Homo sapiens: one gene and its partners. The protein of the gene in region 3 interacts with the protein of the main gene of each other region in a pairwise test. Each region holds a gene or a part of one and is shown on either strand. Other genes may lie near its edges. The genes, in order: TRIM59, FCRL2 and ZDHHC22.

Region 1 (3,600 bases), on a different chromosome or scaffold from region 3:
AGACTTATTCTCAGCAGGTAAGAGTTTTAGAACTAGTTCCCTGAAAAAGCTGTATTTATGATAGTTTATGTGCAATCTGTAGGGCCAGGAGCATAGTCTAATCTGACCCAGAATGTCTTTTTGATTTGATATAGGTAAGGCTCTTCGGTGATCCAAGAGCAGCCCCTTTGGGATTTCTGGAAAGCAAATCAACCTGCACTTAGAGTTGCATGGACAGTGGGCCAAAAGTCGTAACACATGCATCATAACTCCAGTCCCTGTTAAAGGGAACTAAAGGGCTTTGATTTAATTGGCCCTCTTAAGCAAAGCTAATAAAAGATTAAGTTGTTGGGCCGGGCGTGGCGGCTCACGCCTATAATCCCAGCATTTTGGGAGGCTGAGGCGAGTGGATCATGAGGTCAGGAGATAGAGACCATCCTGGCTAACACAGTGAAACCCCATCTCTACTAAAAATACAGAAAATTAGCTGGGCGTGGTAGCAGATGCCTGTAGTCCCAGCTACTCGGGAGGCTGAGGCAGGAGAATGGTGTGAACCCGGGAGGCGGGGCTTGCAATGAGCCGAGATCACGCCACTGCACTCCAGCCTGGGCGACAGAGCAAGACTCCGTCTCAAAAAAAAAAAAAAAAAAAAAAAAAAAAGATTAAGTTGTTGGTACTTTTGCATTAGCTTAAGGGAATGTGGTAGAAAATTTAAATGAGTTAAGATGAATAAAGTCCACATGATGCCATCAAAACCTGTTGCAGACCAAGTTACCAACATGATTCTGTTCTAATAAGAATGAGTTTTTAATCCAAGAACTGATTTGACTGACGAGCAGAAAAAAAAACAATCTTAAATTTGCACAAACTATAGAATATGACAAGTATTAGAAAATGCTGGCCCCCAGGCACAGTGTGGCTAACGTCTGTAATCCCAGCACTTTGGGAGGCCAAGGTGGGCAGATCTCTTGAGCCCAGAAGTTTGAGACCAACCTGGGCAATATGGCAAAACCTCGTTTCTACAAAAAACAATTTTTTTAATTAGCCAGGCATGGGGGTGTGTGCCTTGTCCCAGCTGCTCCAGAGGCAGAGGCGGGAGGATCGATTGAGCCTGGGTGGTCGAAACTGCAGTGAGTCATGACCAGACAACTACACTCCAGCCTGGGCAACAAGGTGAGACCCAGTCTCAAAAATTTCTTTTAAAAAGCCACTTTACTCTAACAGTTATCCAAAAGCAATAGTTTTATTTGGAGTGAATGGTGATAAGCATTTAGGGCTCTTAAATCTATCTCAAACACAGGTATGTTTGATCAAAAGATCTTTAAGCCATGCCTTATCACTTTAAGACTTTGTTGCTTGATTTTGAAACCTTTCTATCATCCTTATTCACCCATTCAAAAGCTTCAAGCCACATCAAAATAAAGGTATATGTTCTTTCAGGATTTTGCTATATATATAAAGAACTGTAAAGCCAATTAACTGCAGTATATAATAATGGTAAAAGACAATATTGGTACAAGAATGTTTAAATGTCACAGCAACATTATGTCAACCATCATAAAGCCAATAAAAATGGGATAGTGTATTACTTTTCAAATTGTTACTAGATTCTGTTTCCCAAAGATTTGACTATTTCAGATATAACTTTGACATATCATTGCTAACCAAAAGAAGCAACAAATATAAACATTTGTTTATATTAGTTGCAGCACTAATAAAGCTTAGTTTGCTCTTTATCCATGCTACCCCATTTTTTGTTTAGCAATGTACAGAATAAGCCCATTTAAACAATTCAGGTTGACATTTTCAATGGGAAACTATTTTCCACACAAATTCCTTCAACAAATAGAAAATGTGACACAGTATATTCTTTACCTTATGCAGACTGTTAGATAAACTTTGGTAAACAGATAGAGAGGCTTCAGAAAACCATATTAAAGTGATTTCACTTAAAAAGGTTATGATGTGTTGGTTGAAAAAGAGTATCGACATCAGTATTACTGAAATTAATGTAACTACAACAATGTTTAAAATTTTTAAAAATTCAACTTCCTTTTCATCCTTACCAGGCCAGGAACATGACATCCTTTTTGGAGAAATTTTCATTTTGGGAATGAGAACGTTCTTAATTTGTCCAATTTCTGTTCTGCTCCATTCTTCTTTCAATATTTTGCTTACTCGAGGATAAATTTCAACGGGTTGAACCTCAGGAAGTGGTCTTTGTTTCAAGATCTGTACATGCTGGCGTACATCATCAACTTTTTCAAGAAATTTAAGTGGAGACTCTTCTTGTAAAGATATTGTCAGTGCCATTAATTCAAGCTGCTGCTCTCGTATTTCCTTCATTCTTTCAATTTGTGGAGTATATTCTTGATTAATTAGATTGCCAACATCACAGAGAGCCGTTAGGAAACTTTTTTTTTTCTGTTCTAATGTATCATTAAGCTCCTTAAAATACTGGAGAACAGCTTCCTTATCGCCTTGGATCATTTTCTCAGAATGAGATTTTTGTTCTTTCAGCTTTTCAATAAGATGGGTAAGATCTGTCCAGTGTGTGTCAGTCAACTGTTCAAGCAGTTTTTGAGGAGTGTCCTTTTCTTTCAAATAGGCACTTTGAAGGTCATCTATAGGATGACCATGATGTTGACCTATGGTAAGGCAATGACCACAAACTAATTTTTTATCTAATAGACAGTAAACATTTAATGGTTGCCTGTAATGTTCAGGGCAGGTGACAATATCTGGATGGTCTTCTTGCTGGTACTTTTCAATAATAGCCCTTAGTGCAAAATTAACAGGTAAAGATTCAATGCCAGTTGGAGCAATTTCAGTAATACTTCTGCAATTAGGGCACTTGAGTGGAATTCGTAAAGGTCTCCATATATAAAAGTTACCAGATGCCTGAAGAATGTTTTCCAAACAATTTCTACAAAATGTATGAGAGCATGGCAGTACACGAGGATCTTCAAAAATACTATAACATATGGGACAAGTTAACTCTTCCTCAAAATTGTGCATTTCCTGTCAAGAGAAAAATGTATTTTAAGTTTACATAGAGACACCTGTACATATTATTTAACATTCTAGGCATTAACCTCCAAATTGTTACCATACTGCTTGTCATTTAAAAGAGAACAAGGTATTTTTAAAATGAAGTTTTCTGAGTAATTCATTTCCTAGTATATATAGTGAATAACTGATCACAATTAAGAGTTTATTCCTTAGGGACCAAAATCATCCCAAACAAAGCAATTATCATTAATTTGTAGTAAAATGCTTCAAATTTAAGTTATTTAAATTTGTTGCTATGTGATATGGTTTGGCTGTGTCTCCACCCAAATCTCATCTTGAATTGTAGCTCCCATAATTCCCACATGTTGTGGGAGGGACTCAGCGGTAGATAACTTTAGTCATGGGGGCAGTTCCCCCATACTGTTCTTGTAGTATCACGAGATCTGATGGTTTTGTAAGAGGAAACCCCTTTTGCTTCACTCATTCTCTTTTCTTGTCTGCCGCCATGTGAGACGTGCCTTTCACCTTCTGCCATGATTGTGAGGTCTCCCCAGCCATGTGGAACTGTGAGTCCATTAAACCTCTTTTTCCTTATAAATTACCCAGTCT
Region 2 (3,828 bases), on a different chromosome or scaffold from region 3:
ACTACAGGCACCTGCCACCACGCCCGGCTAATTTTTTGTATTTTTAGTTGAGATGGGGTTTCACCGTGTTAGCCAGGATGGTCTTGATCTCCTGACCTCGTGATCCGCCCGCCTCAGCCTCCCAAAGTGCTGAGATTACAGGCGTGAGCCACCGCACCCAGCCCACTTTTTTCTTAATCATATATCCTAGACATCTTATCTTGCTATTAAATATTATTCCACAGAATTATTTTAATGGCTGTTTGGTTTTCCACAGCATTTGACACATAACTTATTTTTAACACACATCTCTCCTTGTGATATATTTTTAGTATTTTCTTTTTACATTATTATAAGCAAGGCTTTAATGACCATCACATATAAATATTAGCCTTTCTCAAAGTAAAACTATGATAATAGTGAGAATAAAATGTTAAGTATCCAATTGTTAAAAATTCAATGTTAAGTATTCAGGTAAATGTTAAGTACCTGAACAGGTAACATTGAGTCTATGAATATTTTCAGTCAGTCCCTCATTTATAAGCACCTGTGATTTTTTGGTTTAGAGTTTCATCCTGCATAAGGTTCACTGATGAGACAACATCTACTGGGACTACATCTAATCAAAGTGAGCATGATAATAGGTGTTCACATAACACGCGCTTTGCTTTGTGTGAGATAACTGTATTAGGATCAGCCTGGGGTACAAAAAGCAATGCAGATTAGAAATAGGCAATGTTGTGATTACAGATTAGAAAGATGGCAATGTTTTCAGCAATATAGTGCAAGTGTTTTGAAGTTTAGTAAAATCTCATTCTAGAAAGTCATCGAATGACTACGAAAAATTTTACTTAAGAAATATGAGCTATTGAAACAATGGCCTTATTATTTTATGAACCTTGAGAAGCAATATATCAAGATAATAGGGCACAATGTTTAAGAGCCAGACTGTGACACTGGGCTGCCTGGGTTTGAATCCCAGATCTGTTACTACTAGAAATTGATTAAGCTGATCTTGGTCATTTTACTGGCTGCTATCATCTGAATGTTTGTGTCCTGGCAAAATTCTTATGTTGATACTTAATCCTCAATGCAATAGTAATAAAAGGTACCCACCTTTTATTACATGACCTTTTAGGGGTCATGAGTGTGGAACTCTTATGAAAAGGATTAGTCTCCTTGTAAAAGAGGCTTGAGGGAGCTTGTTTGCTCCTTCCATCATGTGAAGACACATAGAGGACACCATCTATGAGAAACAGGCCCTCATCAGACACTGAATCTACTGGTGCCTTGATCTTAAACTTCCCAGCCTCTTGAACTATGAGTGATAAATTTATGTTGTTTATAAATTTCTCAGTCTAAGGTATTCTTTATAGCAGCCCCAATGGACTAAGACACTTACCTTTACTAGTGCCTCAATTTCCTTATTCATGTGAAAGGGGATAGTGCCAATTCAGAAACTTGCTGAAGGTAATAAATAACTCTGTAAGCATGAGGCACTTAGAACTGTGTCTGACTCATTGCAACCCATATGTAAATGCTAGGTATCATAATGAGGGTCAAGTTACAAAATTTCTCTGGCATTGAGAGGATCAGCTATAATTGTTTTAGCCCTTCCAGGACAAAGATAATGGTTAAACATAGTGGCACTATTCTACTTCCTTTTTTGCTAATTATACAAAACCTATTCTGAAAACCACATTTCATCGCCTGCTCAGAGTCTCCAGTTGGTGACCAAGAGTACATCTCTTTTCAAATAGCTGGATTAGGTCCTCATGCTGCTGTGGTCATTGCTGGTCATCTTTGGTGAGTTCAATAATTTGACTGAGAAGTGAGGTGGCAGCTGAATGAGGTCTACTGCTCCCAAAAGGTTGGAGGTTTTATTGGAGCCCAGGGACTGGTGGGGATGCTCAGGTCCTGCCTGCAGCTTGGGCTTCAAAGGCAGATGCAAAGAAGTAGGCTGAGGACAGTGAATTTGCAGCACATCCATTAAGCATTAAGCACAATGCTTAATGTTCAAGGTGGACCACTTTTCCATTTGCTGGTCATGAATTGCTATTTTGATATCTTAGATCTCATTGAGTAATATAATGTTCTCATAGTAAAATGTTCATAATATTAGCATTTAGCAATGCCCTTCTCCTCCATGAACACCGATTATTCAATTGTTATCTATAAGATTTGGGTTCAGCAGATGCATTGAGACCCTTTGCTAATATTCCTCTGTTTAATCGTGGACAATGAGGGAGATGACAGCTGCTGCTAGAAAATAAGATTCCTGGGTGAGTGCAGTGGCTCATACCTGTAATCCTAGCACTTTGGGAGTCCAAGGCTGGTGGATCACTTGAGGTCAGAGTTCGAGACCACCCCGGCCAACATGGTGAAACCTCATCTCTACTAAAAATACAAAAATTAGCCAGGCGTGGTGGTGGGCACCTGTAATTCCAGCTACTCGGGAAGCTGAGGCAGGAGAATTGCTTGAACCCGGGAGGTGGAGGTTGTGGTGAGCCAAGATCGCACCATTGTACTCCAGCCTGGGTGAGAGAGTAAATAAGATCCCTTTCTCTATGCTGTGTAGGCACTAAATAAATATTTGTTATTGGAATACAAAGGGCTCTAACGTGAAATATGGCCATAGGAAAGAGACTGATTTGTTGATTTCTTGGAACTCTCACAATGTATGTTTCCTGATGAGCCCTTTGTGATCGTGTTGTCATGTCTATCTACCACTTGAAAAGTCAGAGTGTGAGATAGAGTGGTGGGGATGGTGGAAGGAAAATGAAATCAAGGAGAGTCACTAAATATCCAACATGGGTATTCTCGACAATCCCTTTAGTCAAGCATTGGGTTTGCAACTTGCCTTTTGACTACAATGAATGACAGTTAGATGTGTGCTCGAGGGAGATTGAATTGTTAGTAATAAGAGATTAGGGAAATAGAAAAGAAAGGGAAAATGGAAAGAAGTTTTTGAGCAATTTACCAGAGTAATATAAATTTATAAATTATGAGGGCAAATGCTGTGTGCTAATCTCTGGCTTTTGATCTCCTCACAGATGCAGTCACTGAACAGGCAGGTGAGTCCTCCTTGTCTTTGTTGTTCTTGGTCTCTGGCATATCAGTCACCCCACTACCCCAGGATTCTATAGAGGTGGCTCTGGAAAGCCTGTGAAGATGTCCTAATATTACTGCCCTCTAGGCTGACATGTTCTGAGGTCACGCAGCCTGTTTCCAACACCACTTGCATGTCTGGGTGACCAGGTACCACCTAGCCTTCTCAAGACCCCACATGCTTGCCTCTTCCTTAAAAGCCTGGCTTTAAGAAGGGCAATAACATGCAGATTGAAGAAAAGAACAATTTGGAGAGAATTGTTTTCCTGCCCATAGGACTGTAATGCCTCTTTATTGTCTGGCTGAATGCTGAATGTTTTTACAGCTCTGAAAACAGCTATTTATAGAGGAATGTGTCAGAACTACAAACTTCTGCAGGGTCAGAATAAACATGTGTCCTCATTGCTTCTCTAGCTCTAGCTCAGGAATCAGCAAGCTTTTCCTGTAAAAGGCAAGAGAGTAAATAGGCTAAGCTTTTCAGGTGTGTGCCGTAACTACTCAATGCCATTGCTGTGGTAGCAGGAAAACAACCATAGACCATATGTAAACGAATGAGGATGGCTGTGTTCCAATAACATTTTATTTACCAAAACAGTGTTGGCCAGCTCACAGGCCATAATTTGCCAACCCGTGCTCTAGATTTAGTATTTAGTTTTGATTTTTTAAAAATGCATGTATTACTGTTCTAATCATAAAGAGTGAAATAAAGCTAATTTTATTTCACTCTTTCTGAGTTAAATC
Region 3 (3,828 bases):
GGTCACACAGCTGGTAAATGGCAATAAAATGCTCATTCTTAGTCTGCTTGACTCTCATAGGGCCAGAATCCAAGTGAAGTTTTCATATTGATTTTGCCTCCCTATTGATTTTGTCAGGGATAAGCATAAGTTTTAGAAAAACAAAATGACATTTGCCGTGCTTCCCTTCACTCCATTCCTTAAGGGGAGCTGAGGAACCACTAGCTTTAGATCTGAAGCTGTAATGTCCTTTTCTGTTGATAAACGATATTTCTAAATAAATAATCGTCCTTGTCCATTTGTGTTTCCACGACCAGATCTCCTTTTCCTGACTGAATACTCCCTTCCCCCACTAACATCTTCCCACGTTCGCTTAGCTTCTTTCTCTCTTTCCCTTTCCTCATACACACAGATTCAGACACACACCTTCCCACCTCACACCCATATGCAAAATAAAATTAGAAATACCACCCGACTCACAAGGTATTTGGGGAATGGAGATCTTCAGTCAGTATACCCAAACCCAAGCACCCCAGCCAGCCTCCCTCCCTGCCAAGCCCATGTGAGAGGCAGACAGAGCTTGTGAAAAGGGGCCCAGACGGCCACGATTATGAGACAAAGCTGCTCTGAAGGGAAAAGGGCCATGTGTGCCTCCCCATGTCTGTCCTGTGGCCACTGGAACTCACAAGGCTACCAGCTGCTCACGGCCACCATGTGGCATATACTGTTCTTTCACTTACATGTCAGATCCTTTTAGAATGTGAAAAGGTTTCCTGGCCTCTTTTTTATTTTGATGTATGCTGATAAATTACAGAGGAAACAGTGTGTGGTTATTCAAGAATAGAGGCTGAGCTGATCAGCATATGGCCCTCATTTCAAGGGATTGCTCTTGTTTTAATCAGCCAGTTGAGAAAGCAATAAATGTTTATTTATTAAGTATGCCATCACCGAGAGGAGAGGAACAGGGCAGGTAGGTGAGCTGCGACACCCAGGAAATTGAGGATGGTGATGGCACCAATATTCCTGCAGTGTTTGATGTTTTTAAGGCTCTGCTCCCCCCACCCCCCACTGTTTGATACACATTGGTGTCACTACCCTCTTGGCGCATCACAGTACCCACCTTAGAATAGCGGAGCCCTGGAAGGGGAAGGAAATAGAAATAAGAAGGTGGGGGTGAGGCTCAAAGAAGAAGCTCCAAGTTCAAGCTCTGTGTCTGGATAAACTCCCATTGTCTTTCCTTCTCTCAAATCAGAGCTGCCCGTGGGTCCCAGGGTGATGCTGGGCTGTGTAGAGGCTGAGTGCAGGAGCATTAATGCTAGAACCAGGTTCAAGTCCAGGCTCTGTCACTTAATGGCTGTATGACCTTAGACATGAGACTTAGCTTCTCTGAGCTTCAACCTCCTCATCTCCAGAATGGGGCTCAGCCAGCTTCACAGATCAGGCTGAGAGGATTAAGGAAGCATCTTATGCTAAAGGCTTAGCACAATGCCTGCTACCTAGTAGGGGCCCGATAAGTAGTGTCTAATTATGATCTAATCAAGCAGTGCTTGCCCTGGGCAGGCCCTGTTTAAGGGTTTTACATAGATTGTCATTTAACCCTCATATCTCTATTTCACAGATGAGGAAACTGGAATCTAAGATCACACTGGAATTTACAGACGAAGAAACTGGAATCTGAGATCTCACAGTAGTGAATGGTGAATATTCAAACCCAGGTAGACAGGCTCCAGAGTCCCAACTCCCAACCCTCTGTACACAGCCCTTCCGAGGAGATGACGCTGATCTTCATGGGTGTTGCCCTGGCAAGCTGACCTCTCAAGCCCCCAGGGTTCCTTCAGTCCGAGTGGAGAGCAGGGAAGGTCGTGGGACCTAGCCGAGAGGGAAGGGCAGGATGATGGCTGGAGAATCCACATCAGGGCTGAATCCCAATCTCCCAGCTGGAACGGGCGCTGAAACCAGGCAGGGCGCCCCAGCCCGCTCAAGGGGAATCGAGAGGGGAGGAGGGGGCAAGTCCACGATGCTGAGACTGGCGGCCAGAGCACCGCCCCCAGGAGCGGAGGGAGGGGTGGCGGGGCTGGGGGGTGCCCAGCTGCCATCCCCGCCGCTTCCTGGCCCTTACTCGCTGGCGCCCAAGTGGGAAGCCAGCAGCTGCCCGCTCCCTCCTCCCCACATCCCCGCTACTTGCCCAGTTCCCGAAGCGAAGCGCAGGCTGCGAGCCAGCCGGGCCGAGTCCACAACTTTGCAGCCTCGGGCAGGGCGAGAGCCGGCGTCCGGGGCTCCTCTTGTCGGCGACCAGAGCTCGGTGAGTTGATTTCCTCACCCCTCTGCGACGGCGGCAGTGCGGCGGCGGCGGCGCGGGGGGCGGCTTCCCGTGCGTCCGGGAGGCAGTGGCCGAGAAGCCCGCGGCTGCCGGCGCTGCCGGTCTTTCCAAGGCTCCGGCTGTGCCGCCCTCTGCCGCGGGCGAGGCGGGCGCCAGGGCTGAACGGACAGCTCCCTACACCCCGGGGCCCCACGGGCGGTCTCTGCTGTCCCTTCTCCCGCGCAGGGCCAGGGCTGAGGCTGCCTGCCGAGCGCCCCTCACTCCCCTAGCCCCTGTCCTTCGCCGCCTTCCCAGCGCTGCGGCGCATCTGGCTGCTCCCGCGCCCCCCTGGCGACCGGCGCCGGGAAGGCACTTGCTTCGCCGGAGCCCCAGGCCGAGGGCTCTCTGGGGTGGGCAGCACCGCCGCAGCCCCCGGCGGCGCAGGACTGGGGGCGTGCCCAGCCCCCGGCGACCACCCTCAGGCGTGCACTGCGCTGCGCCCCAGCGGTAGGGAGAGGCCCACGCTCTCCGCGGAGGCTGCGGGTTCCCGGGGGGCGCTGGGACCTGCAAAGGGGATTCCAAGGTGACCAGTCGACCCGTGCGGACGGGACAGCCTGGACGGAGGCCCCGTGGCATCCACCCATCCTAGGTGCAACCGCCTTCCCAGAACTTTTCTCGCGCCTCCGGCTGGCCGATTCCTTAGCCCCTGGAAAAGTTCTCTCGGGCGCACGGAATCCTATTTCTCGGTGGCTTCCGAAGCTGGCCAGGAACCCCGGCTGTGAGGCGTGGGGTGGGATGGGGACGTGGTGAGGGCTGAGCACGGCGGCGGGGTCGATCCCAGGAAAGGCTGGCCAAGCATCCACTCGTGCGCCCAGGGCGGGCTTGTCGGCATGGAAAGGATTTCGGCGCCATGAGGGTTGTTTGGGTTTCTCTCAGCAGGAGGGCGGGAGGCGGGCGCGAAGGGGGGATTTTAATTTCGCCTCAAATGAAAACGCTCTTCGCAAAGAAATAGCCCGGGCAGCCAGCGTTGGAGAGATGTGCTGGCCAGGACCCGCTGACACAGGTATTCTGGTTGCGCCCCCACCTCACCCGGTGCCCGAGAGCGAGTGTGAGTGTATCGATTGTTTCAATTGATTTTTTTAAAGCTAGATAGCAGAGGCTGCGTGTCTGTACACGCAGATATATACATACACAAATACAGATACTCAAGCGCACACAGATTACACGTACAGAGTCACAGACAAGGACACACACACACACATCGTGGTCCCTCACGCACACATACCTCCAAAGAGCCTTGGGTAACCTGGTGAGGTCCCTGAGTGCTGCCCAAGATGTGTGTGTGGGTGGGGACGCAGGGACGGAGAAAGGGGAGTGTGAAGCAGGATTTCCAGCAGGTCAAGTGCCGCTGATTCTCCTGCCCCCGACCCCAAATCCTTCCCTTTCTCCTCCTAGGGAGGTCTGAACCAGAAATCCCAAACCTGGGCTTGTTTCCACATCCACAGAGGGGAGGAGTCCTATCCCCCGGTGCCCCCCACCCTCACAACTCC

Evidence for each region.
Region 1: the proteins of ZDHHC22 (region 3) and TRIM59 interact in binary tests that used the Homo sapiens proteins (3 or more experiments, as listed by UniProt).
Region 2: the proteins of ZDHHC22 (region 3) and FCRL2 interact in binary tests that used the Homo sapiens proteins (3 or more experiments, as listed by UniProt).

The regions. Positions count from the first base shown.
Region 1 is NC_000003.12:160,436,187-160,439,786, forward strand, and holds part of TRIM59 (tripartite motif-containing protein 59), read right to left. Parts: intron 3,001-3,600; 5' UTR 2,998-3,000; coding exon 1,786-2,997; 3' UTR 1-1,785. UniProt on the Homo sapiens protein: E3 ubiquitin ligase involved in different processes such as development and immune response. Serves as a negative regulator for innate immune signaling pathways by suppressing RLR-induced activation of IRF3/7 and NF-kappa-B via interaction with adapter ECSIT.
Region 2 is NC_000001.11:157,775,000-157,778,827, reverse strand, and holds the start of FCRL2 (Fc receptor-like protein 2 isoform 1 precursor), read left to right. Parts: upstream 1-1,695; 5' UTR 1,696-1,754; coding exon 1,755-1,785; intron 1,786-3,032; coding exon 3,033-3,053; intron 3,054-3,828. UniProt on the Homo sapiens protein: May have an regulatory role in normal and neoplastic B cell development.
Region 3 is NC_000014.9:77,140,056-77,143,883, reverse strand, and holds the start of ZDHHC22 (palmitoyltransferase ZDHHC22), read left to right. Parts: upstream 1-2,092; 5' UTR 2,093-2,281; intron 2,282-3,139; exon of another isoform or gene 3,140-3,341; intron 3,342-3,828. UniProt on the Homo sapiens protein: Palmitoyltransferase that could catalyze the addition of palmitate onto various protein substrates and be involved in a variety of cellular processes. Catalyzes the palmitoylation of KCNMA1, regulating localization of KCNMA1 to the plasma membrane.